Linked DNA regions of Homo sapiens. The protein of the gene in region 5 interacts with the protein of the main gene of each other region in a biochemical or structural test. Each region holds a gene or a part of one and is shown on either strand. Other genes may lie near its edges.

Region 1 (3,991 bases), on a different chromosome or scaffold from region 5:
ATTCTCAGACCCACAGTAAGTAGAACCAAAGCTAGGACTGGAGCCCAGGTCTACTGGGGCCAAGATGAGGCCCCTCTATTTTCTGTTTTTACAAACGGCACCTCTTGCAGGGGTGGGGGCAAAAGGGATTGGGTGTAGGAAAAGTTAGTGTGTATGTGGGGGGTGTTCAGTGAGGGGAGGGCCCTGGGAGGTAATGTCCTTTGGGGCACATCGGGGGACCTGCTAGAGAAGCCAGTCCAGGCATAGCCAGAATAAAGAGTGGAAGAAGTAAGGTGAAGGAAGGAGGATGGATGCTGTCGCATCAGTCTGAGGGCTTCAGAGGCACTAGAAAGAGCTGGCTGGCTCGCTCTTGAATCTAGTTCTGGCCCTATTTTCCATGACTAGGAACTACCTTATGATGCCCCCATCATCTCCCAAAGAACTACAGATGGCAACTCATAGGGCATAGAAATTTGGGGAGGGGGCCTCCTGCAGGAACATAGTACTCACTGGGTACCAGGCACTGTTCTAACTGCTGTGTAGATATTATCTCATTCAATCTTCGTAGCAACCCTATGAGGTAGATGGTATTATCCCCCATTTTACAGATGAGGAAACTGACACACAGGGAAGTCAAGGGATTCATCTGAGATGAGAAAGCCAAGACTTGAACTCAGGTACTTTGCTTTCAGAATCTATGCCAGTAAACTACATTACTTCTGCATGCATCTGGGGTGAGGACAGAAGGGACATGTCACATCTAGGTGAGCCGCATAGCTCCCCAGGCCAACAGAAGGAGTCCCTCTGGGCTCCTTCCAGAGAGTGTGGAGCCCTAGGCCAGAGAGTGTGGTCCTGCAGCACATCCAGTGCTGGGGCACCCACACTGTGAAACGGATGCAGACTCTCCAATGCAAGTGTAGACAACCTGGAACAGCACAGGGCACAGTGATCACCCCCTCCCACCAACAATTCTCCTTGACAGGTTCTTATTTCCCCATCTGGTTTGCAGTGTGGACAGAAGGCAGTTGAGGTAATTTTGGGTGATGAGCTAGAAGTGGCAGGGCCTTCAGGGAAAACAGCTTGGGGTCACAGTGTTCATGTCAACCCTTCAGGAAAGGCTGGACTGAGTTAGGCATTTGGGAGGCTGGTCTCAAATGGGGTGGGCCAGGGCAGCCAAGCCTATGCCACAGGACTGGGAGGTCCTGACTGAGCCTCCATGTGTCTTCCTCCATGGAAAAGATATCAAGGCTGCCTCAGGAGAGAAACTGGACAAAGGCACAGACACTGAGGATGAAGCCTGTTCCAACAGGAGCCAAGGAATGACGCTGTGTCAGAGAGAAAGCAGAGATGTCCACTGTGTCCTCTCAGCTGCCCAGCCTCCCTTCTTGCTAGTCTGGCAGGCGCACGAAAGACACCTCTGGCCTGAAGAAAGAAGAGGGAGCACTGGAAGGGGCAGGGACTCCATGACTCATCTAGACAAGGTGGCTTTAAGGAGCCTAGGCTATTGGTGTAAAAGCAACAGCTCTGGGCACAGAGCAAGGTCTCTCTGGGCCAGGAGGACCAGGTCTGTGCCAACTGCAGAACACGAGATAGACTGGAGGCTGGCTGATGGGAACATCTCTAAGTCCCTCTAAATTCCAGGGGGACTCTAGTGGAAGGCTAGAGGACTCTGCCCTTCTCTTTCCCATCTATTATGTCCATGAACAGTTTAGATGGATGGGTGGTGGCCACTAAAGCCTCCAACCCCAAGGGTACTAAAAAAGAGAGGGATATACAGTAAAGCAGTGATTGGTATGAAAGGAGCAGGGTTTGCTGAGATGGCAAGTGACCTGGGAGGGCAGGAGGGCAAGCCCCCACCAAGAGTGAGTGAGTGCCTGTCCTGGAGCAAAGAGGCGCCCAAAGTTACCCTCCCCAACCTCCCGCCTCCCAGAAGGCCTCCAGATCTGCCTTCGGGAGCCCAGGCTCCCCTCGCTGCTGGAGGGACAGCGAAAGGGCAAAGAGCTGGCTCATATTGGAGGAAACAAAGCTCCGCTGGACAAAGGATGGAGCAGGCAGCTCCGGCTGAGACCTGGCCCTGTCCCCCGAGGAGGGTCGCAGATGAGGGGATCGTGCTGCTTCTTTCAGCCTGAGCATCGCTGACTATTCTGCGCTGGGCAGTTAAGGCTGCACGGCCCGACCACGGTTAACCTTGCACACCTCCTCTCCCCACCCGCTTAGCCCCTGCTCCGCCACACCCGCGCGGCCTGACGCGGTCCAGGCACGCCCAGGCTTTGGGGAGCCTCTGGGGCGGCCCGGATGGGGCAAGGAGAATTTTGGTCGTTCTTGGATGCTGTTTCCTTCCTTCGCCGCCCCTCCGTGCGAGCGGGATCGTGGAGCCCAGACTTTCATGACCAGGACAAGGGGGTCCGCGAGGCGGAGGGAAGTCTTTAGACCCGTACCGCCCGCCCACCCACCCCCCGGGCTAGATCTCGGACAAGCCTGGAAACGCCCAGGGTCGTGCCCGGCAGTCCCACCCAGGGAGCCGCGGGCTGAGATTTTCCCAGTCCGGAGAAGGGGCAGAGAGGCGGGCCCGGGGTGGTGTGGAGGCGGCCGAAGGAGCTGGGGGCTCCCTGTCCAGGGCCCGGAACAGCTTTCCAGGGGTCCACCCCTGCAGGGTCTCCCGCTCGCGCGGGCCAGGCACTCACCGTGCAGGGTCAGGAAGTCCCGGCCCGAGTCCATGCCCGACGGGCGGCGCGGCGGGAGGGGCACCGCGGGACTCACTTGAGTAGCGACAGCACCGGCGGCCTGGGGTCCGAGCGGAGTGCGGTGCAGGGACCTGAATGGACCGCGGTGGGAGGAGGCCGGGGGTGGTCCCGGGACACCGCCCCGCCCCCGCTGCCCTGCGCCCCCGCCCCCTGAGCCCGCCAACCCTCGTCTCTCCCCGCCCCCTTCTGGGGACGCGAGAGGGAGGGCAGAGCTGGGGGCCCGGAGGACTGGCCAACCCTGGCCCGGGCCAGCGGGCGCGCCCCGACCAGAAATAGCCAGATTCCTCCAGCTTCCTCCGCCGCCGCCACCCACGGGCCGCGGGCCCTGTCATTACCGCGGGCGGCCGGGCCCCACGCCCTGTTGTGGGCGCCTCGCTGGGGTCGGGGTGATGCTGGAAAGAATCCGGCGTCATCCCGGGGAAGGGATCGTGTAAGGTCCGACGCCCAGCCGGGCTGCTGCGCTAGGGAGACGCGGCGTCCAGGCTTCCAGCCGCAGCTCCCAGCGTTCGCATTCCCTTCTGCGAAATGGGTGCACGGACACGATTAGAAGGTCTTCAGAGAGCAATACCTGGACCTTGTCGGGAGGAGGGTCCCCTTCCCTCTCGCTGGGAGGTTTCTAACCCCAAGAGTGCCTTTGGTGGAGTGTTGGGGGTGTGGGAGGGGGAAGCAAGCAGGTGCACGGATTTCACTTTTGAGCCACTCATATCCCAAAACCCCAGCGATCCATGCAGCCGAGGGGGAGGATCCCCAGGGTCCCTTCTTCAGGTGGCCTCCCAAGGGGCTGTCTGGGCAAGGTCCCTATGCAGACCCACCCCCTAACTCTTGGGACCCAGAAAACCCCCTTTATAGGTTGCCCAGAGACCCCTCCCACCACAGACCCTGGGAGGGTCCCTAGATCCTGTTGCCCACCACCCCTTTGGAGAGTCCCTTGGGAAAACTGGGCTCTTGGTGTCAGAGAGCCCCCAGAGGGCCTCCCAGGAAGCCACCCAGGCCTCCTGGGCTGATAAGGCCAATGTGAGAGTCAGGCAAAGCTAGTTGGACCAGCTCTGCGGGGAGGGGGCTGGGCTCACCCCAATCCCTCCTCTTCTGGGCCCTAGGTGGCCTTGAATAAGGGATGTGAAACAGCTGAAGGACAGTCTTCTGGTTCTGGGGGTTAAAAGTGGATCAGGACTTCTGGGCTTTGGAGAGCCCCCTGCTCTGCATGCCCCCTCTCCACAGACGGGGCTTCACCCCTTACCTGGCACTCAGCTCCAATCCTGTCCTGCAGT
Region 2 (3,500 bases), on a different chromosome or scaffold from region 5:
TGAGCCGAGATCGTGCCACTGCACTCCAGCCTGGGAGACAGAGTGAGACTCCGTCTCAGAAATAATAATAATAATTAGCCAAGCGTGATGGTGCGCACCTGTAGTCCCAGCTACTCAGGAGGCTGAGGTGGGAGGACTGCTTGAGCCCAGGAGGTCAAGGCTGCAGTGACCTGAGATGGCACCAACTGCACTTTAGCAGTGCCACAATCACAGCTCACTGCAGACTTGAACTTCTGGGCTGAAGTGATCCTCTTGCCTCACCTCCCAAGTAGCTGGGACTACAGGCACCCACCACCATACCTGGCTGGTTTCTATTTATTTAATTTATTTTAAAGACAGGGTCTCACTGTTGGTAAAAGAGTGAGACCTTATCTCATTAAAATAAAATAAAATAAAATAAAAAGGCTGCTGATGTACCCTAAGAAAAACTTTAAAAAGAAAGAAAAAAAGGGCCGGGAGCGGTGGCTCATGCCTGTAATCCCAGCACTTTGGGAGGCCAAGGTGGGTGGATCACCTGAGTGAGGTCGGGAGTTCGAGACCAGCCTGACCAACATGGAGAAACCCCATCTCTACTAAAAATACAAAATTAGCCAGGCGTGGTGGCACATGCCTGTAATCCCAGCTACTAGGGAGGCTGAGGCAAGAGAATCGCTAGAACCCAGGAGGCAGAGGTTGCAGTGAGCCGAGATCACGCCATTGCACTCCAGCCTGGGCAATAAGAGCGAAACTCTGTCTCAAAAAATAAAAAAATAAAGAAATAAAATAAAGAAAAAAAGGCCAGGCATGGTGGCTCAAGCTTATAATCCCAGCACTTTGGGAAGCTGAGGTGGGCGGATCGCCTGAGGTCAGGAGTTTGAGACCAGCCTGGCCAACATGGCAAAACCCCATCTCTACTAGAAATATTAAAATTAGCCGGATTATACCGGCAGGCGGGTATAATCCCAGCCACTCGGAAGGTTGACACAGGAGAATTGCTTGAACCCGGAGGGCGGGGGTTGCAGTGAGCCGAGACTGCGACACTGCACTTGAGCCTGGGCAAGAGTGACACTTCACTCCAGCCTGGGTGAAAAAAAAAAAAAAAGAAAAAAAGATAATAGTGTTTTGTTAAGGGAAACCTAGCCTTTTTTTTGGAGACAGGGTCTTGCTAGAGTGTCCCCAGGCTACAGTGCAGTGGCATGATCATAGCTCACGGTTCCTTGACCTCCTGCAGCCTCTTGAGCAGCTGGAACTACAGGTATACAACACCACAACCACACTGGCTATTTTTTTATTTTTCTTTTGTAGAAATGGGTATTGCTATGTTGACAAGGCTAGTTTTGAACTCCTGGCCTCAAGCAATGCTCCAGCTTCAGAGCTGGTGCTGAATCCTAGAATTTTTGATATAAGGTGGCTTCTAGTTATGAATTTTTTTTTTTCAAGATGGAGTTTCGCTGTTGTTGCCCAGGCTGGAGCGCAATGGCACAGTCTCAGCTCACTGCAAGCTCCGCCTCCCAGGTTCAAGCGAGTCTCCTGCCTCAGCCTCCTGAGTAGCTGGGATTACAGGCATGCACCACCACGCTCAGCTAATTTTCATATTTTTAGTAGAGACAGGGTTTTTCCATGTTGGTAAGGCTGGTTTTGAACTCCTGACCTCAAGTAATCCACCCACCTCAGCCTCCCAAAGTGCTGGGATTACAGGCGTGAGCCACTGCGCCCAGACTTGTTCTGAAATTTGAAAATTCTGTGTCTCCAGGGTGGAAACATCACACACCGGGGCCTGTCCTGGGGCGGGGGTAGCGGGGAGGGATAGCATTAGGAGATACACCTAATGTAAATGACGAGTTAATGGGTGCAGCACATCAACATGGCGTTATGTATACATATGTAACAAAACTGCAAGTTGTACACATGTACCCTAGAACTTAAAGTATAATAATAATAAAAAAAACAAAATTCTGGTCTCCCTTGTTTTTTGAGACAGGGTCTCACTCTGTCACCAGGCTGCAGTGCAGTGGCACAATCTTGGCTCACTGCAACGTCCGCCTCCCTGGTTCAAGCGATTCTCCTGCCTCAGCCTCCCAAGTAGCTGGGATTACAGGCACCTGCCACCATGCTCAGCTAATTTTTGTATTTTTAATAGAAACAGAGTTTCACTATATTGGCCAAGCTGGTCTCCAACTCCTAACCTCGTGATCCGCCCACCTCGCCCTCCCAAAGTGCTGGGATTACAGGCATGAGCCACCGCACCCTGCCTATTCTGTGTCTCTCTTAAGTAATTATTCCCCTCCCAAACCACCAACTCCAAAGGCAACGGAATAAAACAAGACATGGCTCAGAGAGAAGAGATGGGCTCGGCCAGGTGCGGTGGCTCACACCTGTAATCCTAGCACTTTGGGCAGCCAAGGCGAGTGGGTCACTTGAGGTCAGGAGTTCAAGACTAGCCTGGCCAATATGGTGAAACCCCATCTCTACTAAGAATACAAAAATTAGCTGGGTGTGGTGGTGGGCACCTGTAATCTCAGCTACTCGGGTGGCTGAGGCAGGAGAATTGCTTGAACCCAGGAGGCGGAGGTTGCAGTGAGCTGAGATTGCACCACTGCACTCCAGCCTGGGCAACAGAGCGAGGCTCTGTCTCAAAAAAAAATAGTGATAGGCAGATAGGCTCCTATACACGAAGGGACATAATTTTGAGCTAATTGAGAACTGAGGCATCTTGTATCCTGCCTCATCCTTGTGCGGCAATATCCCAACCACCGCATGCCAGGTCCCACTTCCAAGTCAGCCCTACATGAATAGAGGATGCAGATAGATCCTGGAGAACCTCAGGCCACTTCTCTTATATCTGAGACCTAGATGGCCCGCCAAGTTCCAGAAACATTTAACGAATTCTCAGGATCAGGATGCCTAGCAATGGCTAGCTGACCTCAGACAAAGAGGTTACAGGGAACGGCCAGGCGCGGTGGCTCACGCCTGTAATCCCAGCACTTTGGGAGGCCAAGGCGGGTGGATCACGAGGTCAGGAGATCGAGACCATCCTGGCTGACATGGTGAAACCCTGTCTCTACTAAAAACACACAAAAAATTAGCCGGGCGTGGTGGCGGGTGCCTATAGTCCCAGCTACTCGGGAGGCTGAGGCAGGAGAATGGCGTGAACCCGGGAGGCGGAGCTTGCAGTGAGCCGAGATCGCGCCACTGCACTCCAGCCTGTGAGACAGAGTACGACTCCATCTCAAAAAAAAAAAAAAGAAGTTACAGGGAACTTCTAGAGGTTGGAATGAGAGGGAGGGACCTGAATTCCTCCTACTCTTGAGTAACGTTGGAGAAGGAAAAGTATCTTTTTGTCCCTGAAGAAAACCCTTGTGATCACTGGGCAATTGTTCACATCTGTAATCCCAGCACTTTGGGAGGCTGAGGTGGGAGTATCGCTTGAACTCAGGAGTTTGAGACCAGCCTGGGCAACATATGGAGATGACATCACTGCAAAAAATAAAAATAAGGCCGGACGTGGTGGCTCACGCCTG
Region 3 (3,500 bases), on a different chromosome or scaffold from region 5:
CCAAAGTGCTAGGATTACAGGCATGAGCCACCATGCCTGGCCGATGATGAGGTTTTAAAAACAGGAGTTTTCCCTGTACAAGCTCTCTCTTTGCCTGCTGCCATCCATGTAAGATGTGACTTGCCCCTCCTTGCCTTCCACCATGAGGGTGAGGCCTCCCCACCCTCGTGGAACTGTAAGTCCATTAAACCTCTTTTTTTTATAAATTGCCCAGTCTTGGATATGTCTTTATCAGCAGCAGGAAAGTGGATTAATACACCTTACAATATTCCCCATGAAAATATCTGCATATATATTTGAGATTCTTTTTAATGACATGTTATACAGCATAGTGATTACAGAGTTGATGTTTAAAAGAGTGATCCTGCATGACTTTTATCCTTAAAACTCTTTTAAAAACACTTAAAAAAAAACTTTTTAGAAATGAAAAATGACTGCCTACATAGGATATTGATTAGTACAGAGACAAATACTATTTTTGGAGATACTCTCCATTAGTATTAGTAAGCAATTATCAATGTGCTGTAGTCAAACAAAAAGTGAAATGTGAAAAGGAGCACTCTCACCTGATGTATTCCTCTTTATTTTCTTCTGTTACAAGAATATTGCCACCATTAGGTTTCAGATCATGACTCTTAATTTCACCTAGAATTTCTTTGTCAACGGAGAAGTACATTTCCAAATCACATTCCTCAATATTGTTTTCCCTGCACAAATGAAATTAGCACTATTTGTTATATCCACCAATTCAATCATAATTTATAAGTTTTTAACGAAAGGCCCATGTTCTTAAATAATTAATATTAAGCTATAACATCAAAATAAGAAGAAATAAGATTCTGTTCTAAGGTCATATTATTGCCGAAGATCTTGGGTGTATTTTTGTAAAATTTATCATATTGAATAAAAAGACAGGTTTGATATATAGATCATTTAAATACAATAAACCAATTATGTGCCTACAGTTTGGATAAGTTATCAATACTACACGGAATGCATATAACTATATTTTAATAAATTACATGGAAAAAGAAACTTACTTAACCCAGATGAGAGAATTGTAAAATTCTGGATCAATAGATTCTAAATCCTTGAGTCCAACTGGTTTGTTCAAGATACGCTTATAGAATGGTAAAGAAAAACCCGTGTCTATGAATTTCCCATGGAACAGAGCCTATGAAAAAAGGAAACAAGACCGCTTAAAATAACTGTACAATAATCATTTTATTTCAATATATTAGATGTACTCTTCATTTAAAAACACTTCCCTGGGTCAGGCATGGTGGCTCACGCCTGTAATCCCAGCAATCTGGGAGGCCGAGGTGGGTGGATCACCTGAGGTCAGGAGTTCGAGACCAGACTGACCAACATGGAGAAACCCCATCTCTACTAAAAACACAAAAATTAGCCGGACATGGTGGCACATGCTTGTTTGTAATCCCAGCTACTCGGGAGGCTGAGGCAGGAGAATTGCTCGAACCTGGGAGGCAGAGGTTGTGGTGGGCCGAGATCACGCCATTGCACTCTAGCCTGGGCAACAAAAGTGAAACTTTGTCTCAAAAAAACACTTCCCTGGCTGGGCACGGTGACTTATACCTGTAATCCCAGCACTTTGGAAGGCTGAGGCAGGTGGATTACCTGAGGTCAGGAGTTCAAGACCAGCCTGGCCAACATAGCAAAACCCCTTCTCTACTAAAAATACAAAAATTAGCCAGGCATGGTGGCGCACACCTGTAATCCTAGCTACTTGGGAGGCTGAGGCGGGAGAACTGACTGAGTCCAGGAAGCAGAGGTTGCAGTGAGCCAAGATCGTGTCACTGTACTCCAGCCTGGGTGACAGAGCAAGACTCTGTCTCAAAAATAAAAAACAAAACAAAACAAAAAACCACTTCCCTTTCTCTCATATGATCTGTTATGGCACCTAAGAGAAAATTTAGTATTGCTGAATAAGCAAAGTAAACATAATTCTTGACCTGCACTTACCATGGCAATAAATCTGCCAATAAAACGAAAATATTTCAGGTGATCTGGATTGATGTAAGAAGCGGGGTTTATCTGCAAGCAGTAGTTATCCTTCCCTGCATATTCAAACAGGCAATACATTGGGTTCAACACTTCATGTGACAAAAGAAAGAACCATTCTCTGAAATCAAAAGAAAATTTACGATGAAAAATCTTGTAGGTTACCAAGAAATCAAAGAACAGTGCTATAAAGTTCTCAGGGATCTATACCCCTCAGCTAGTGATAGTTTTCTAATCTCATGTTGATTTTTATTGCTTCTGTTCAAACTCACATCTGTTTCACAGAGTTGGTAGTATACACCATCTTTGGTAGATGGTAATATATACATTATTACATTTCAAAAAATCTAAGACAACATTGCACCTTTATTTGATGAACGACTAAATTGTATTTTCCAATTTTACCTGAGATACATCGTAATTTCAGAGATATTATAAAATGAAAATATTAGTCTTAGAATCAATGAAATACTATTCATAGGCAAATTTAAAATTCACTATTTACCCATGTGAGTAAAGTGGCTGAAATCAATCTAATATTCCATCTATTACTAAGTCCCATAATAATCCCCATCAAGTGCCACTACTCCCTACACGTTAAATCAATATGAAAATTCTTCCAATTTCACAGAGGCAGTAAAGTTCTTAATTCCAGCCACTCACATATTAGAAAAATGCTGAGACTCTAAGTCAAATATTGTGAAAATATGAACCAATATTAACATAAGATTATGGTTACTAAAACTACGTAACATGGGTGATCTGGGGTAATACATGTGGCATAAGCCTGTAATCTGGATCTCTTTTCCTGTTAGTTCATGGCCTCTTGTGATAAGTGTATCTCATGACACACTTTAATATTGCTAGTTTATTTTCTTATTAGGAATGAATGATTGCTCTCCTCTTCAATTGCCTTTAACTTATACAAAATTACATGTTTCTACTCATATTTGTTATTTATCTATGATTATATCATATATTTTGAAATAATTTTATTTAAACTCAGAAACATAATATAAATAAGAACTACTAAAATGTAGCCACCAATTAGCGTGCACACAAAGACACAGGCTCTGAACTAGGTCATTAATAAACAATATTTCTACTCTTCACAATAATCCTAGAAATGTAGATATTAATATTCTTATTTTACAGATGAAAATATTTGCCCAACATCACACTATTGAGAGCAGAAAAAGATTCAAATCCCGTCTTGACCCCAAAGTCCTTGTCTTTGCACAATGCCAGCTCTACGCAAATTTTTAACCTGGTGTGATATATTATCATGGAATAAGCAAAGCAATTCTCATTAGAGACTATCTTCTAGGGTCCAATATTAAGCTCCAATATGAAGAAAGCAGAATTAAGACTTTCAACTCCTATTTTGTACAACCTTCTATATTTTCATGACAAATATACTAATCTCAGTTGGAAACTGAGTAACTATTACCTGTATCAGTAATCTGTGGTGGGGAAAA
Region 4 (3,500 bases), on a different chromosome or scaffold from region 5:
CTATGCTGAGTCTGTCAAATGCACGATCTGCTTTAATCCTCACGAGGCCTGGGAGGGGGATGTTAGGGACCCTGTTTGACCAACAAGGAAGCAGAGGCTCAGAGGGTTAAGAAACCATGGCTCTGGCTGGGCGCGGTGGCTCGTGCCTGTAATACCAGCACTTTGGGAGGCTGAGGCGGCGGGGAATCACTTGAGGTCAGGAATTCGAGACCAGCCTGGCCAACATGGAGAAATCCCCACCTCTACTAAAAATACAAAAAATTAGCTGGATGTGGCAGTGGGCGCCTGTAATCCCAGATATTTGGGAGGCTGAGGCAGGAGAATCGCTTGAACCCAGGAGGTGGAGGTTGCAGTGAGCAGAGATCATGCCACTGCACTCCAGCCTGGGCGACACAGCAAGACTTCGTGTCCAAAGAAAAAAAAAGAATCCATGGCTCAAGTTTGCCCTGGAAGGAGAGGCTGGGATTTGACTGAGACTGCGAAGTGCACGTAAGCCTCTGACTTCTGCAAGAAGCCAACCCCACCAAATTCAAAGCAGCTGTCTCCCCAGACTCAAGGCAGAGATTCCACAGGGCCTGAACTCCACAGGCCAAGCCCTTCCCCGCCTCTTGCCCTCCCTCCTTGGAGGGAACAGCCCCTGAGGGACTCATTATTTTGCCTAAAGCCATGGCAACAGCAACATCAACTTTCCACGTTTCTCGACTTGGGCTTCTGTTGGACGGTGAGTAACAGAAAGGAAAGCAGAAAACACAAGCCGGTGCTTTCTGCATGCTAGAGAGGTTTTTGTTTATTTCAGGGCCCTCCCCGTCGACACTACTGACATGTTGACACTGGGCCCAGAACATTCCCTGTGGTGTGGCTATCCTGGGCACTGCAAGGGGCGGAGTGGCATCCCTGACCTCCAGAAGTACCTCCCAGTTGTGACAACCACAAAAGTCTCTAGACACAGCCACCGATACCGCCTCTCGAGCTTTGAAAGAAGCTTCTTGCCAGTGGAGCTGCTAGAGATGCCGTAGCACATTCCATGTCTGTGGCTGGGAAAGGTGGTGCTGGCTGACCCTGGTCTTCCTAGAGTCCCAGTGCATGGTCCAGGGCCACTGTTTCCAACCACTGCCATCCCTTCCCCACCACACAATCTCCAAACTAGGACCACATGTCTGGAGGGCAGCCAAGAGGTGGCAGACGCTTTGCTCCCTTTCAGGAGAGAAGACAGTGTTGTCACCCCACCCTGCCCCACTTAAAAAAAAATAAGGTGACAGTTCTTAATGGGGGCGATTCTACTCCACAGGGAATACTGGCCACGTCTGGGGACATTTGTGGTTGTCAGATGTCAGGAGCATTGGGTGGGTGGAGGCCAGTGATGCTGCTCAGCACCCTGCAGTGCCCAGGGCGACTCCTCAGAAACTAAGAATGGTCCAGCCGTAATGCTGCTAGTGCTGAAACAGAGAAACCCTGAAATACGGGAACAGAAACCTCTGGGCAGAGCTGAGAACACTGGACCGTGCTGTCTTTCTTCTCTGCTATGAAAGCCTGAGGCCTCAGGTTCAGTCACCTTCCCTGTCCCCGCTACCATGAGAACCAGGGACCCTGACTTGAGAAGTCACTGCAGGTGAGGGCTCCGAAGCCTGGGCTGCTGGTGGGGAAGTGCCAGGGCCCAGCACACGCACACCAGCAGCAGACTGTGCCGTGAGCCATGGGGCTGCCTCGCTAACACCTTCTTTGTCCCACGCTCCCCTCCCCTGTTAAAAGGAAAATCTACCTACTTGCCTGCTGTTGAACCTGGGGAAGGCATAAAAAGTCAATGTGCTGGTTCAACAGCTCACATACCTTAACTCTGTCCCTCAAGTTCTGCCCAAATACAAAGGCTTGCTGTGTGGCGGGGTCTTTTTTCTCACAGGCTTCCTCTTCAGAGGCATTGCTGGACTCATTTTTCTGGGGCTCTTTCTCCTATCAAAAACCAAAACAAAACAGAGTAATCAAAACCAGTGCCACACTTGGCCCAGACGGATGCCCAGCAATCCCACACCAGATCATGTACTCCACACGTCTCCTCTGCATGTGCCTGCACTCCCAGCTACTCAGAAGGCTGAGACAGGAGGACTGCTTGAGCCTGGGAGTTGTAGTGAGCTGAGATCACACCACTGCACTCCAGCCTGGGTGACAGAGCAAAAACCTGTCTCCAAACAACAAGAAACACCTGTGCCCTGCAGAAGCCTTAGTGCCGGCAGAGGACAGGAAATAACCTGGTTGCTCATCATTGGCCAAGGAATGAAATAATTTACAATAGAAAATATGGGGGAAAAAAAGTACAGCACAGCTATTACCACCGAGAGGGAGGTAGGCCTCTGACATGCCCACAATACATGGATCAGAGAAGAGAGCAGCTTGTGGGACACGGAAGTGCGATTCCATTTCTGTTAAAGCCAATCCAGTCCCGTGTGTGTGGTGTGTGTGTGTGTGTATGTGTGGTGTGTATGTGTGTTGAGGAATGCCCAGGAAAATAAGTCGGGAGAGAGAATTCAAACTACTGACGGAGGTTACCCGGGAACCTCTTAGCTGGAGGGTGGCTCCTGCTTGTTACTTTCTAGGATTTCCATTTTGTGTAAATATTTTCAACATGTAGGCATGACTTTTTTGTAACTAAATATCCTAAGACCAAATGCATTTATCTTGAGATAATGGAATATGGAGTTGCTAGTAATTTGTATATGTCTTTCCTATACCACATGATGAAAAAGGTGTTGTAGAATTTGAAAAGAAATTTTAAAAGGCTTTTGGCAGATCTTTGGAGTCTCTGGCGATGTGTACAGTGGACATGAACGTGAGGCAGGGAGTGTTTTCCTGGGAGATGTCGTGAAGGGACCTGACAACCGTGAACTCGGAGGTGAGAAAGGCTGCAGGCAGCTTCTGACTGGCTCAGCGTGTCCAGCGGGCAGGGAAGCCTGGAGTTACAATGCCAGGCCCAGAATCAGCGGATCACAGCGCTGAGGGCACTTTCTGGTCCAACTGTGAAGGAAGTGAAAAGTGTAAATGTTTCTCTACTGTGCTCCCTAGAAATTCTGCTACTGCTGACTTCACGCTGCATCCTTGTGCCTGTGCAAGAGTGAACGTGGCTTTTTAAAATTAAACACACAACGTGTTTGGCGACCTGGAAGTCCTCAGAGGATGGGCTAATCCCCAGCCCCACTGGGGCCGCCTGCATCCCGTCCAGCAGAAACACTCCCTGGCTCTTGGCTTTCTGCGCTGTGTGCCCCCTGCTCACACCGACTGGTGCTAATCCCGGGTGGGTGGAGCCCACAGAGTCACCTGAGATGGGGCAGGCAAACAGCAAAATGTTTCTGACTACAGGGTATGTCTATGACCTGGCGGAGCCTGCTTAGAGGATTCGCTTAAACTGATAAACGAATCCCGAGGCCTGTAACCAGTCTGAGACTCTGTGTGTGTGTGGGGCGGGAGGGGAAGCCTCTTCCCCACTTTCCCAAAGACGGTACCAGGAGTTC
Region 5 (3,500 bases):
ATGCCATCACACCCAGCTAACTTTTTTGGGTTTTTAGTAGAGATGGGGGTCTCCCTATGTTGCCCAGGCTGGTCTCAAATTCCTGGCCTCCCAAAGTGCTAGGATTACAGGTGTGAGCCACTGTGCCCAGGCAGCTGTCTCAGAATTCTTTTTTTTTTTGAGACAAAGTCTCGCTCGTGTCCCCCAGGCTGGAGCATGATGGCGCGATCTCGGCTCACTGCAACCTCCGCCTTCTGGGTTCAAGCGATTCTCCTGCCTTAGCTCCCCCCAGCAAGTAGCTGGGATTACAGGTGCCTGCCACCATGCCCGGCTAGTTTTTGTATTTTTAGTAGAGATGGGGTTTCACCATGTTGGCCAGGACAGTCTCAAACTCCTGACCTCAGGTGATCCACCCACCTCGGCCTACCAAAGTACTGGGATGACAGGCGTGAGCCACTGTGCCTGGCCTCAGAATTCTTATCTATAATACGGAGAAGTAGGAAAGGCTGTCAGAAAAAACCAGCCTCAGTAGCAACATCAGCATAATCAACACTGCCCTAGAACCTAGAAACAAAACCAGTCATCCCACCTCACTTCAACCTTCAACACGAGGTGGGAAACCAGAAGTTACAAGAGGAGGTAGCAGTAAATGGCAAAGGAGAGAGATGGGGACAAAACTCATCTTCCAGGCTCATTGTTGCTGTTATAAGGAAAGGATGTTCACACCCTCGTTTTGTAGACAGACATGGACACTAGAATGAAGCTAGTTCTGGGGCATTCAGGTGGGTCTTATTCACAGTAGATCACTGTCTAATCTGATCCAAGGAGATCTTACTCATGAGACGTGGGCTGAAACAAAACTTTTTCCTTCTAATCACTAACAACTCAGCATTCGGGGTGACTTACATAGAAAGGCCTTGGTCAAGTAACAACATCACTAAATACAAAAACAACGTTGCTGATGTTAATAACACCTATGAACTAATCTTTATATAACTTCCAATCTGAAAGGATTTGTTCTGTTTGCCCAAGAATCAAAGAACTGTTCTATCACTGACAGATACCAAAATCTAGCCAGATGTCAAAACAAGATCCACTTGTCATTAAACATGTCTCGCTTGACATGGTAACCACGCCACCATTTATGTAAAGAGTAAAGGCACAGGTATGATAAAAGATGAAGCCACAATTGACCTAGAGCTAATTATTACCGTGATCAGCTAATTCAGTCAATGAACTCACTAAGAATCAGTAGTCCACTCAAAGGCAAACAGTTAACTGTTCTGGCATGAACACGGGACAAAGAATAGCTGCCAGATATTCAGGCCAGCTCTGCTGACTGGGTCGGATCACTTAGTATCCTGCTTTGCAGCTAGCACCAATAATGAACTCCCCCTTTCCTTCTTATACGGTATATCATCATCCCTGGCCCCCACCCCCATCAGCTCTACCCAACTACAAACAGTTCTGATTGATGTTAAATGAAAGGCTTTGCTCTCGAGGACTAGCAGAGCTAGAATGGACAAAAACGGTATGTCAAAGACACGAGGGAATGAGGGGGAAAAACAAGGTGAATTGTCCAAAATATCAGGGGCTGAATGGGTATTATTAACCCAAGTCCAGGGTGCCTTCACACCACACTACATAGTCTCCTAGTACATATGTGGAGTGCACTGAATCCCATTCTACCTTTACCTTTTTCCTTTAGATTGCTTTCTGAAGACTCCATATTACTTGAGGTGATTTAGAAACTACGGATGTCCACCTCCTGAGTACTAAAAGTTTTCTGTTTAAACTAGAGGTAACCTTAATAGTAATATTCAATTATCAGAAAAGAGAAACTAGCTCCCAATTGTGCCCCAATATCCAGATTTCAAAAAAGATCACCAACAGTGAAACTTAGTATTAGTTATCGTTGTGCTATGAAAGGGAAAAAGGCCAAGGTACTGTTAGCTTTTTTCTCATGCCCGAGGGCTTAACCATGCCTATACAAATTATCTAATTTTTTTTTTTTTTTTTTTTTTAAGAAATGGAGTGTCACTCTGTCACCCAGGCTGGAGTGCAATGCGCAATCTTGGCTCACCACAATCTCCGCCTCCCAGGTTCAAGCAATTCTCCTGCCTAAGCCTCCAGAGTAGCTGAGACTACAGGTATCCACCGCCACAGCCAGCTAATTTTTGTATTTTTAGTAGAGACAGGGTTTCGCCATGTTGGCCAGGCTGGTCTCGAACTCCTGACCTCAGGTGATCCACCCACCTCGGCCTCTCAAAGTGCTGGGATGACAGGCATGAGCCACTGCGCCCAGCCATTATTGTCTAATTTTTTTTTAAAGGGTTGGTGTTAAGAGTGATGTGCCAAAAAATAAGCCAATTACAATTCCAATTACATCTTATCCCATTTACTAGTGTGTAAATTAAGGAAGATGAGAAACTGAATGGGCACTATCAGTATCGAGATTTCCAGTGATAGAATATACTTCCATTTATGTCACTTAGCTGAGGGAGAAGGAATTAAAATGTTGTTATTACACAAGCAGAACCAACATGAATAGAAACAGCTCTACATGCTCCAAAACGATTTGAAACCAAGTTGGATTTAATAACCCGGCTCCTTATCATGGGTATGCAAGATTGGTGACAGAAGGAGGTACACAACCAGATACAGAAGTTACTGCCTTACAGGGCACTACTTTACCTAATGCTGATATCTAGAACCAGGAAATAGCAAGTATGATGTGCATAACCATGTCCTGCACAAGTACATATGTAGGAATTCCCCACTAGTTTCCACTCAAATACCAAGGACAAAATGATGACTGCACAGATATTTAACTCACTCCTCTTTGTGCCTTACCCATGTAAGACAGATCACTAAAGAACTTAATTTAAAAACAACAACAGCCAGGCGAGGTGGCTCACTCCTGTAATCCCAGCACTTTGGGAAGCCAAGGCAGGCAGATCACCTGAGGTCAGGAGTTCAAGACCAGCCTGGCCAACATGGTGAAACCCCGTCTCTACTTCAAGTACAAAAATTAGCTGGGCATGGTGGTGGGTGCCTGTAATCCCAGCTACTTGGGAGGCGGAGGCTGCAGTGAGCCGAGATCATGCCATTGCACTCCAGCCTGGGCAACAGAGCAAGACTGTCTCCAAAAAAAAAAAAAAAAAAAAATTCCCTGAGCTGTACTCCAGAAGTACCGAATCGGAATTTCTGGAGAGCTTGGAAATACCTATTAACAAATTCCCTAATTTTTATACAAATGTAGCACCAATTTGTACACTACTCCCATTTGCCAAACAGATTTTACCAATTATGGCACGTAATTAAAGTTTCCCAAACTGCTGCAGCCTACCTCAGTCATCTAAAAAGAATTCCAATCCATCAATGGGAATGGACAAGCTGTGTTGAGAAAGATTTAAGACAAAGACAATTTTTATCTTTAGGTAAAGTTGAGGTCCCAGAAACCTATCACACTGTTAGCTCTATCCCATGCAAATAGCAAAAGATCTGAGAAAGCGATTTCT
Region 6 (3,500 bases), on a different chromosome or scaffold from region 5:
CAGCCATCAGAACTGTAACAGTCCAAGCAAAAATATGCATGTATAAAATATTTTCAAAGAGGTCTCACTTCTAAACATATAATCAGATAAAGCAGGCAATAACTCCTTCCACATCATCTCCTCATCTGTCATCTTCACACTGCGGATAATCACACAGCTCCTCAGTCAAGTACCTATCCAGCCCAGCTAGTAAGTCTGTTCCCTCAGATCCTCAGCACGTGATGGTAACACTACTTTACATTGATTCGTCTCTTTTTTTCAGAGACAGGGTCCTGCTATGTTGCCCAGGCTGAAGTGCAGTGGGCATTCACAGGCTCAATCATTGCGCACTACAGCCTCAAACTCCTGGGCTCAAGCGATCTTCCTGCCTTGGCCTTCCAAGTAGCTAGGACTATGGGTGTGCCACTGAATGCAGCTTGACACCGATTCCCCTTATAGCGTGACTTCACTAATGTATATTGTATTTCAATTCAAAAGTAAATTATTTAAGAGCAAGAAAAGAAAAAGGGGACGAGAACTAATATTCGCTGTCATGTGTTTTATTTTTTTTTGAGACAGGGTCTCGCTGTCACTCAGGCTGGAGTGCTGTGGTGTGATCATAGCTCACTGCAGCCTTGACCCCTGGGCTCAACTGATCCTCCCACCACAGACTCTGATAGCTGGGACTACAAGCGTGCACCACCATGCCCAGCTAAGTTTTTGTTTTTGTTTTTTTTTTTTTTTTTGAGACAGAGTCTCGCTCCGTCACCCAGGCTGGAGTACAGTGGCACAATCTCGGCTCACTGCAAGCTCCACCTCCTCTGTTCACGCCATTCTCCTGCCTCAGCCTCCCGAGTAGCTGGGACTACAGGCACCCGCCACCACGCCCAGCTAATATTTGTATCTTTAGTAGAGACGGGGTTTCACTGTGTTAGCCAGGATGGTCTCGATCTCCTGACCTCGTGATCCGCCCGTCTCCGCCTCCCAAAGTGCTGGGATTACAGGCGTGAGCCACTGCGCCCAGCCAAGTTTTTTATTTTTAGTAGAGATGAGGTCTCATGACGTTGCCCAGGCTGGTATCAAACTCCTGGGCTCAAGCTTCAGCCTCCCAAAGTGCATAAGCCATCACACCTGGCCCACTGTTATGTATTTTATATGTTAAACACTGTCCAATTTTATATAAATGTGTTAACAAAAAAAAATTACTTGATTCTCCATTTCCCCAATGTGGTAGGTGTTATTACACTTATTTTACAGATGAATATAAAGTTCAGAAAGGTAAAGTGACTTGGGAAGACCAGAAACTCAGTGACTCGCTGAGTCATGTCTCAGTGATGCCGTGAGGTCCACGCTGTGCCTCTCACAGCCTGCTGCCCCTTCAGGCCTTCTATGTGTGCACACTCGCCAGCTCCAGCTGCTGTGGAGGGAGACTTTCACAGGCTTTTTTGACATGAACCAAGCTGAGTGGCTGATAAGAGGGAACCCCATGGAAGGACCTTGCTAATAATATTTTAAGACCAAAGTCTGGCCTGTCTGTGGCTCTTAAGGAAATAAAAGGAAAATAAAGAGCATGGTGAACAGCATCATTATCAAAGGGGTTCACCTCTGTACCTCACTTTGCACCACTAATCAGAATACCAGGAACTTTCTAACATGCTGTACCCATGAAAAAAAAATATTTCAGATTGTAAATGACAAGAAATGGTCTTGTATGGTTATATTTTTAAATGGTAACCAAAGAATTGCATTTTATATCCTTTTCTTATGAAGAGGAGAACGTTTTGACAAGCATCTTACTGTACTGCCTACCACTTACTGCATCCTTATAAACCATATGCATATATTACAAATCAGCAATATTTTTCCTTCTTAATCCACATGTGTTAGATAAAAAGTGAAAAGTAGTGTTCTCAAGATTTGTTATTTTCCTTTTAAAATGTTTATAATTTATATTGTTTGCATAAAACTAAATGAGTTTCTTTTTTTGCTTCAAATAACCCAGAAAAGAAACCCAAAAATCTATAGTAATATAGTAATTTCAGCCAGAAGTCAGTATCAAAACAACACAAAACAAAACAAAAAAAACACTAAATTGTTTTTCATACTTCTTCACTACCTAATCTAAACCTGTTATCTTAGTTACATTTCCTTGCTAGTATTTAAATATGATAACCATAGCACTTTAAGAGAATTTTATTATGGAATATTTGCATGCTATAAAAATAAGACAAGAAGGACCAAATAGTTAAGTGTAGATTATGATCAAAGTCCTAGTTTTGGTTCTGGGCTGTCGGTGTGTTAGTATCATTCAGTAGAACCCACTGCAGCTAAGATCCAGAGCACCTAAATGATGAGCCACCAATTCACAACAAATCCCTACCACTTAGGTCCAGTAGCTGTCCAGTTTTTCAGATGAGGCAACCCTGACACACAGACTGTACAACAACTTATGCCAAATTTAAACATACTTCCTGAGACAAATAGGTAACACTTCAAAATGCTATTAAAGTAGAACCGATTCTAAGAAATGAATTGCAAGAAATTGGAACCCTTGGGCACTGCTGATAGGAAGCTTAGATGGTACAGCCACTGTGGAAAACAGTGTGGTGCTTCCTCAAAAATTAAATAGACAATTACTATATGATCCAGCAATTCTACTTCAAGGTACAGACCCAAAAAAAAACACCTGAAAGCAAGAATTTGAACAGAGATTTGCACATCGATGTTCATAGCGGCATTAATCACAAGAGCCAAAAGGTTGAAACAACCCAAATGTCCATCAGTGAGTGAATGGATAAACAAATGTGGAATGTACATATATTATTCTGCCTTAAACACACAACGAAACACACAACGAAATCCCGACACAGGCTACAACATGAATGAACCCTGAAGACATCATACTAAGTGAAGTAAGCCAGTCATAAAAAGACAAATAATGTCCAAGTCCATTTATAAAAGGTACCTAGAATAGACAAATTCAGAGAGACAAAAAAAGGAATGGTGGTTGCCAGGGGCTGGAAGTGGTGGAGAATGGGGAGTTATGTTTAATGGGAACAGTGTTTCAATTTGGGAGGGAACAAAAGTTCTGGAGAAGGATGGGGATGATGGCTGAATAACAATGTATACTTAATGCCACAGAACTGCACACCTTTACAATGGTCCATTTATGTTATGTATATTTTACAATAGAAAATCATAAGTAAAAGTAATTGCTGGCATCATTTGCATTGTCCTGAAGTATACAGGTTTTAGAATTTTTTACAAAATGAAAGAACTTATTGCAACTTTTCCAACTCTTATAAGAAAAAATATCGTGTACTTGTGTTAGAGACCAGAAATTACTTAAATATCTCCTTAGAATCTTAGTGAACTTAGTGATCAACATCTAAAATTATGCAGGAAAAAAGGGAACTCTGCAATTGGACTGACCATTATACCTGATTAGCTATCATTTTATAATCAAAAGTTCTATATGATCAAACAATAAACATTGCTCCTCATGATAAAAAACAGAAGTC
Region 7 (3,431 bases), on a different chromosome or scaffold from region 5:
CTGATGGAATGTCTAATAGAAATACAGTACAAACTTATGTCATCCTAATAATAAAAGGAAAACTCTTAGTAAATTTACATCATGTATAGGTTTTCATTTACATGAAGATACACGCTATTTTAATATCTACTTACATCATCACCAGAGAAATACTGATCTATGATTTCAAATGCTAATTTATATATGTCTTCATTTTCATGTTGCTGTAAAACTTCAATTTTCTCCAAACCTGGTAAAAATAAAATAATCAAAATAACTGGTTAATTGATAAGGAGATACTAATCAAAACCACACTCATTTTAATCATGGAGAAATCCTAAGGAACTCAGAACACACTGCTCCCCCATCTAAGATAGTGGTTTGTCTAAAAAACAGACAAAACACGGGGCTGCTTCTAGTTGGAGGACCAGAATCCCACTAATTTTTTCCTTCTTAGAAGCCCTTGAGGTACCCGGATCCCTGAGGCAGACAGTCTAAAAAAACACCCAAACAATCCATTTGACAGAGGGAAGCTGTGGCATAAATATGTAAAGAGACTTATTTCAAGTTATATGGCAAGTTTGTGACAGTACTAGAACCAACTCCCCCACAGTGCTTTAATATAAATTTACTAATCTATTTTTTTTTTGAGACGGAGTCTCGCTCTGTCACCCAGGCTGGAGTGCAGAGTGCAGAGGTGTGATCTCGGCTCACTGCAAGCTCCGCCTCCTGGGTTCATGCCATTCTCCCGCCTAAGCCTCCCAAGTAGCTGGGACTACAGGCGCCCGCCACCACACCCGGCTAAGTTTTTCTATTTTTAGCAGAGACGGGGTTTCACTATGTTAGCCAGGATGATCTTGATCTCCTGACCTCGTGATCTGCCCACCTCGGCCTCCCAAAGTGCTGGGATTACAGGCGTGAGCCACTGCGCCTGGGCATTTTTTCTTTCTTTCTTTTTTTTTTTTTTTTTTGAGACGGAGTCTCACTCTGTAGCCAGGGCTGGAGTGCAGTGGCACGTCTCGGCTCACTGCAACCTCCACCTCCTGGGTTCAAGTGTCTCCTGCCTCAGCCTCCCAAGTAGCTGGGATTACAGGTGCCCACCACTATGCCCAGCTAATTTTTTGTGTTTTTAGTAGAGACGGGGTTTCACCATGTTGGCCAGGCTGGTCTCGAACTCCTGACCTCGTGATTCGCCCGCCTTGGCCTCCCAAAGTGCTGGGATTACAGGAGTGAGCCACTGCACCCGGCCAATCTTATTAATCTTACTGCCTCATAAAGTAATTTGTATCTTTCTCTTTGTTTTCCAAATGTTATTACCTTTATATAACCACAAAATGAGTTTTTAGAACCTTATAATTGGTATAAAAGATATAAAGATTTAAATTTTGAAAAACTTTCTTTAAAAAATGAATAGAGGTCTTATGTCCTATAGCCACAATGAACCTGGGAGAAAATATTTCCAGAACAGATATCATAGAATGCCTTCATTTATATTTCCAATATATTTACTCCACACATCATATACATGTTTATCAATTTCACACCTTAATATTCTTCCTTGAAATGTCTTTTTGAAGGTTATTTTAAAATAGTTGCAATTTTTTCTTATATACTAATAAACCAAAAGAATGGGGGAAATCGTTGCCAAAGTGCTTTATACAATTATAAAATATTAATATGTATCCTATTACTCCTATAGACAAAAGTAACTATATTGATAAAAAGCTGAAGAGTAGTAATTCTCTAAGTTGCTCAAACTTACTGTGTTATGAACCTGACTACAATTTTTAATTATCTTAATAGTAAGAAGATCTGGATTTTAACTTTGCTTCTATCACAACCTACTTCTGTCACCTTGGACAAGACTCCTTAAAATCTGTGGGATAATTTCTTCTCAAGAAACCCTCCCGGCTGGGTGCAGTGGCTCACGCCTGTAATCCCAGCACTTTGGGAAGCCGAGGCGGGCAGATCACCCGAGGTTGGGAGTTTAAGACCAGCCTGACCAACACGGAGAAACCCTGCCTCTACTAAAAATACAAAAATTTAGCCGGGCGTGGTGGTGCATGCCTATAATCCCAGCTACTAGGGAGGCTGAGGTAGGAGAATTGCTTAAACCCGGGAGACGGAGGTTGCGGTGAGCCATTACACTCCAGCCTGGGCAACAAGAGCGAAACTCTGTCTCAAAAAAAAAATAAATAAATAAAAAATAAATAAATAAATAAATAAATAAATAAATAAATAAATAAATAAATAGAAAGAAAGAAATCCTCCCAGTCTGAATATTCTACGGTACTACTGCATTTGTTTTCTCTTAAAATAAATAAATAAATAAACAATAGAATATTCATATAAAGTAGTCAATGAAATGTAAAATCTAAAACATGACATTATGATAAACTAATTTAAGGTTTAAACATGTTAGTACATATTGAACATGTACATTTAAAAACAGAATTTTAACATATGTTTCACATGTCATTAAAGAATAATACAGTATGTCAAATCACAATTATTTCTCATTAAAATTTCAAAGTAACTGCCACAGTAATAACTTCAGGATGTAGTTGTGGAAATCCTAAGAATCATTACAAGATTGAAACAAAATATCTAGGTGACTCAGAAGTCAGTAACCTTTTCCAACTATATGAAATAATATTTCCTAAAGTGGGGTCCACAGAATTACATGGTAATAACACACAAAAAAAGTGTTTCATTGTTAAGAAGTTTAAGAAATGCTGGATTAAATAAAGCTTTAAAATTTATGTAGTGTTGTAAGGGCTCTTAAATTTGCTGTCATGCACTGTGACTTCAAGAGAAGTATTAGTGTTTCCTAAAATGCAATGTCAGGCCAGGCGCAGTGGCTCATGCCTGTAATCCCAGCACTTTGGGACGCTGAGGCAGGTGGATCACTTGAGGTCAGGAGTTCGAGACCAGCCTGGCCAACATGGTGAAACCTCGTCTCTATTAAAAACACAAAAATCCACTGGGTGTGGTGGTGTGCGCCTGTAATCCCGGCTACCTGGGAGGCTGAGGTGTGAGAATTGCTTGAACTCGGGAGGCAGAGGTTGCAATGAGCTGAGATTGTGCCACTGCACTCCAGCCTGGGCGACAGAGCAAGATTCTGTCTCCAAAAAAAAAAAAAAAAGCTATGTTGTCAATCTCTAGAAGGCTATACAGTGACTTTCACAACCTGATTTTGCAAAGTATGGACTACTGTCTTCTGGAAAATCCTCTTGGAATGCAAATATAGTGAATAAAGAAAAGCAACATACTGTGATCATTTAAAAACAACGTATCCTAGTAATTTTCTGTCTAGTAAGTTGACTTTAAAGAACTTATGTTTCAGAGTTCCAGTGCTCAAATACTCTTCTTCCATCAATCCACTCTTACCTCCACATTCCTCTATTATTTCAGCTATTGTGCTTGCTTCATCACCGGCCATTATCAGAATG

The links.
Region 1: the proteins of KPNB1 (region 5) and PLCD1 form a complex in vitro, tested with the Homo sapiens proteins (one study listed by IntAct).
Region 2: the proteins of KPNB1 (region 5) and NUTF2 form a complex in vitro, tested with the Homo sapiens proteins (one study listed by BioGRID).
Region 3: the proteins of KPNB1 (region 5) and ITCH form a complex in vitro, tested with the Homo sapiens proteins (one study listed by BioGRID).
Region 4: the proteins of KPNB1 (region 5) and RANBP3 interact in a test that uses a peptide from one of them, tested with the Homo sapiens proteins (one study listed by BioGRID).
Region 6: the proteins of KPNB1 (region 5) and TAF3 form a complex in vitro, tested with the Homo sapiens proteins (one study listed by BioGRID).
Region 7: the proteins of KPNB1 (region 5) and KPNA3 form a complex in vitro, tested with the Homo sapiens proteins (2 studies listed by BioGRID and IntAct, with this or other methods).

Annotation. Positions count from the first base shown.
Region 1 is NC_000003.12:38,026,843-38,030,833, forward strand, and holds the start of PLCD1 (1-phosphatidylinositol 4,5-bisphosphate phosphodiesterase delta-1), read right to left. Parts: upstream 2,801-3,991; 5' UTR 2,698-2,800; coding exon 2,664-2,697; intron 1-2,663. UniProt on the Homo sapiens protein: The production of the second messenger molecules diacylglycerol (DAG) and inositol 1,4,5-trisphosphate (IP3) is mediated by activated phosphatidylinositol-specific phospholipase C enzymes. Essential for trophoblast and placental development.
Region 2 is NC_000016.10:67,849,933-67,853,432, reverse strand, and holds part of NUTF2 (nuclear transport factor 2), read right to left. Parts: intron 1-3,500. UniProt on the Homo sapiens protein: Mediates the import of GDP-bound RAN from the cytoplasm into the nucleus which is essential for the function of RAN in cargo receptor-mediated nucleocytoplasmic transport.
Region 3 is NC_000020.11:34,478,273-34,481,772, reverse strand, and holds part of ITCH (E3 ubiquitin-protein ligase Itchy homolog), read right to left. Parts: intron 2,144-3,500; coding exon 1,984-2,143; intron 1,175-1,983; coding exon 1,041-1,174; intron 708-1,040; coding exon 567-707; intron 1-566. UniProt on the Homo sapiens protein: Acts as an Acts as an E3 ubiquitin-protein ligase which accepts ubiquitin from an E2 ubiquitin-conjugating enzyme in the form of a thioester and then directly transfers the ubiquitin to targeted substrates.
Region 4 is NC_000019.10:5,926,141-5,929,640, forward strand, and holds part of RANBP3 (ran-binding protein 3), read right to left. Parts: intron 1,948-3,500; coding exon 1,828-1,947; intron 1-1,827. UniProt on the Homo sapiens protein: Acts as a cofactor for XPO1/CRM1-mediated nuclear export, perhaps as export complex scaffolding protein. Bound to XPO1/CRM1, stabilizes the XPO1/CRM1-cargo interaction. In the absence of Ran-bound GTP prevents binding of XPO1/CRM1 to the nuclear pore complex.
Region 5 is NC_000017.11:47,652,919-47,656,418, reverse strand, and holds part of KPNB1 (importin subunit beta-1), read right to left. Parts: intron 1-3,500.
Region 6 is NC_000010.11:7,825,005-7,828,504, reverse strand, and holds part of TAF3 (transcription initiation factor TFIID subunit 3), read right to left. Parts: intron 1-3,500. UniProt on the Homo sapiens protein: The TFIID basal transcription factor complex plays a major role in the initiation of RNA polymerase II (Pol II)-dependent transcription.
Region 7 is NC_000013.11:49,702,252-49,705,682, forward strand, and holds part of KPNA3 (importin subunit alpha-4), read right to left. Parts: coding exon 3,370-3,431; intron 230-3,369; coding exon 135-229; intron 1-134. UniProt on the Homo sapiens protein: Functions in nuclear protein import as an adapter protein for nuclear receptor KPNB1. Binds specifically and directly to substrates containing either a simple or bipartite NLS motif.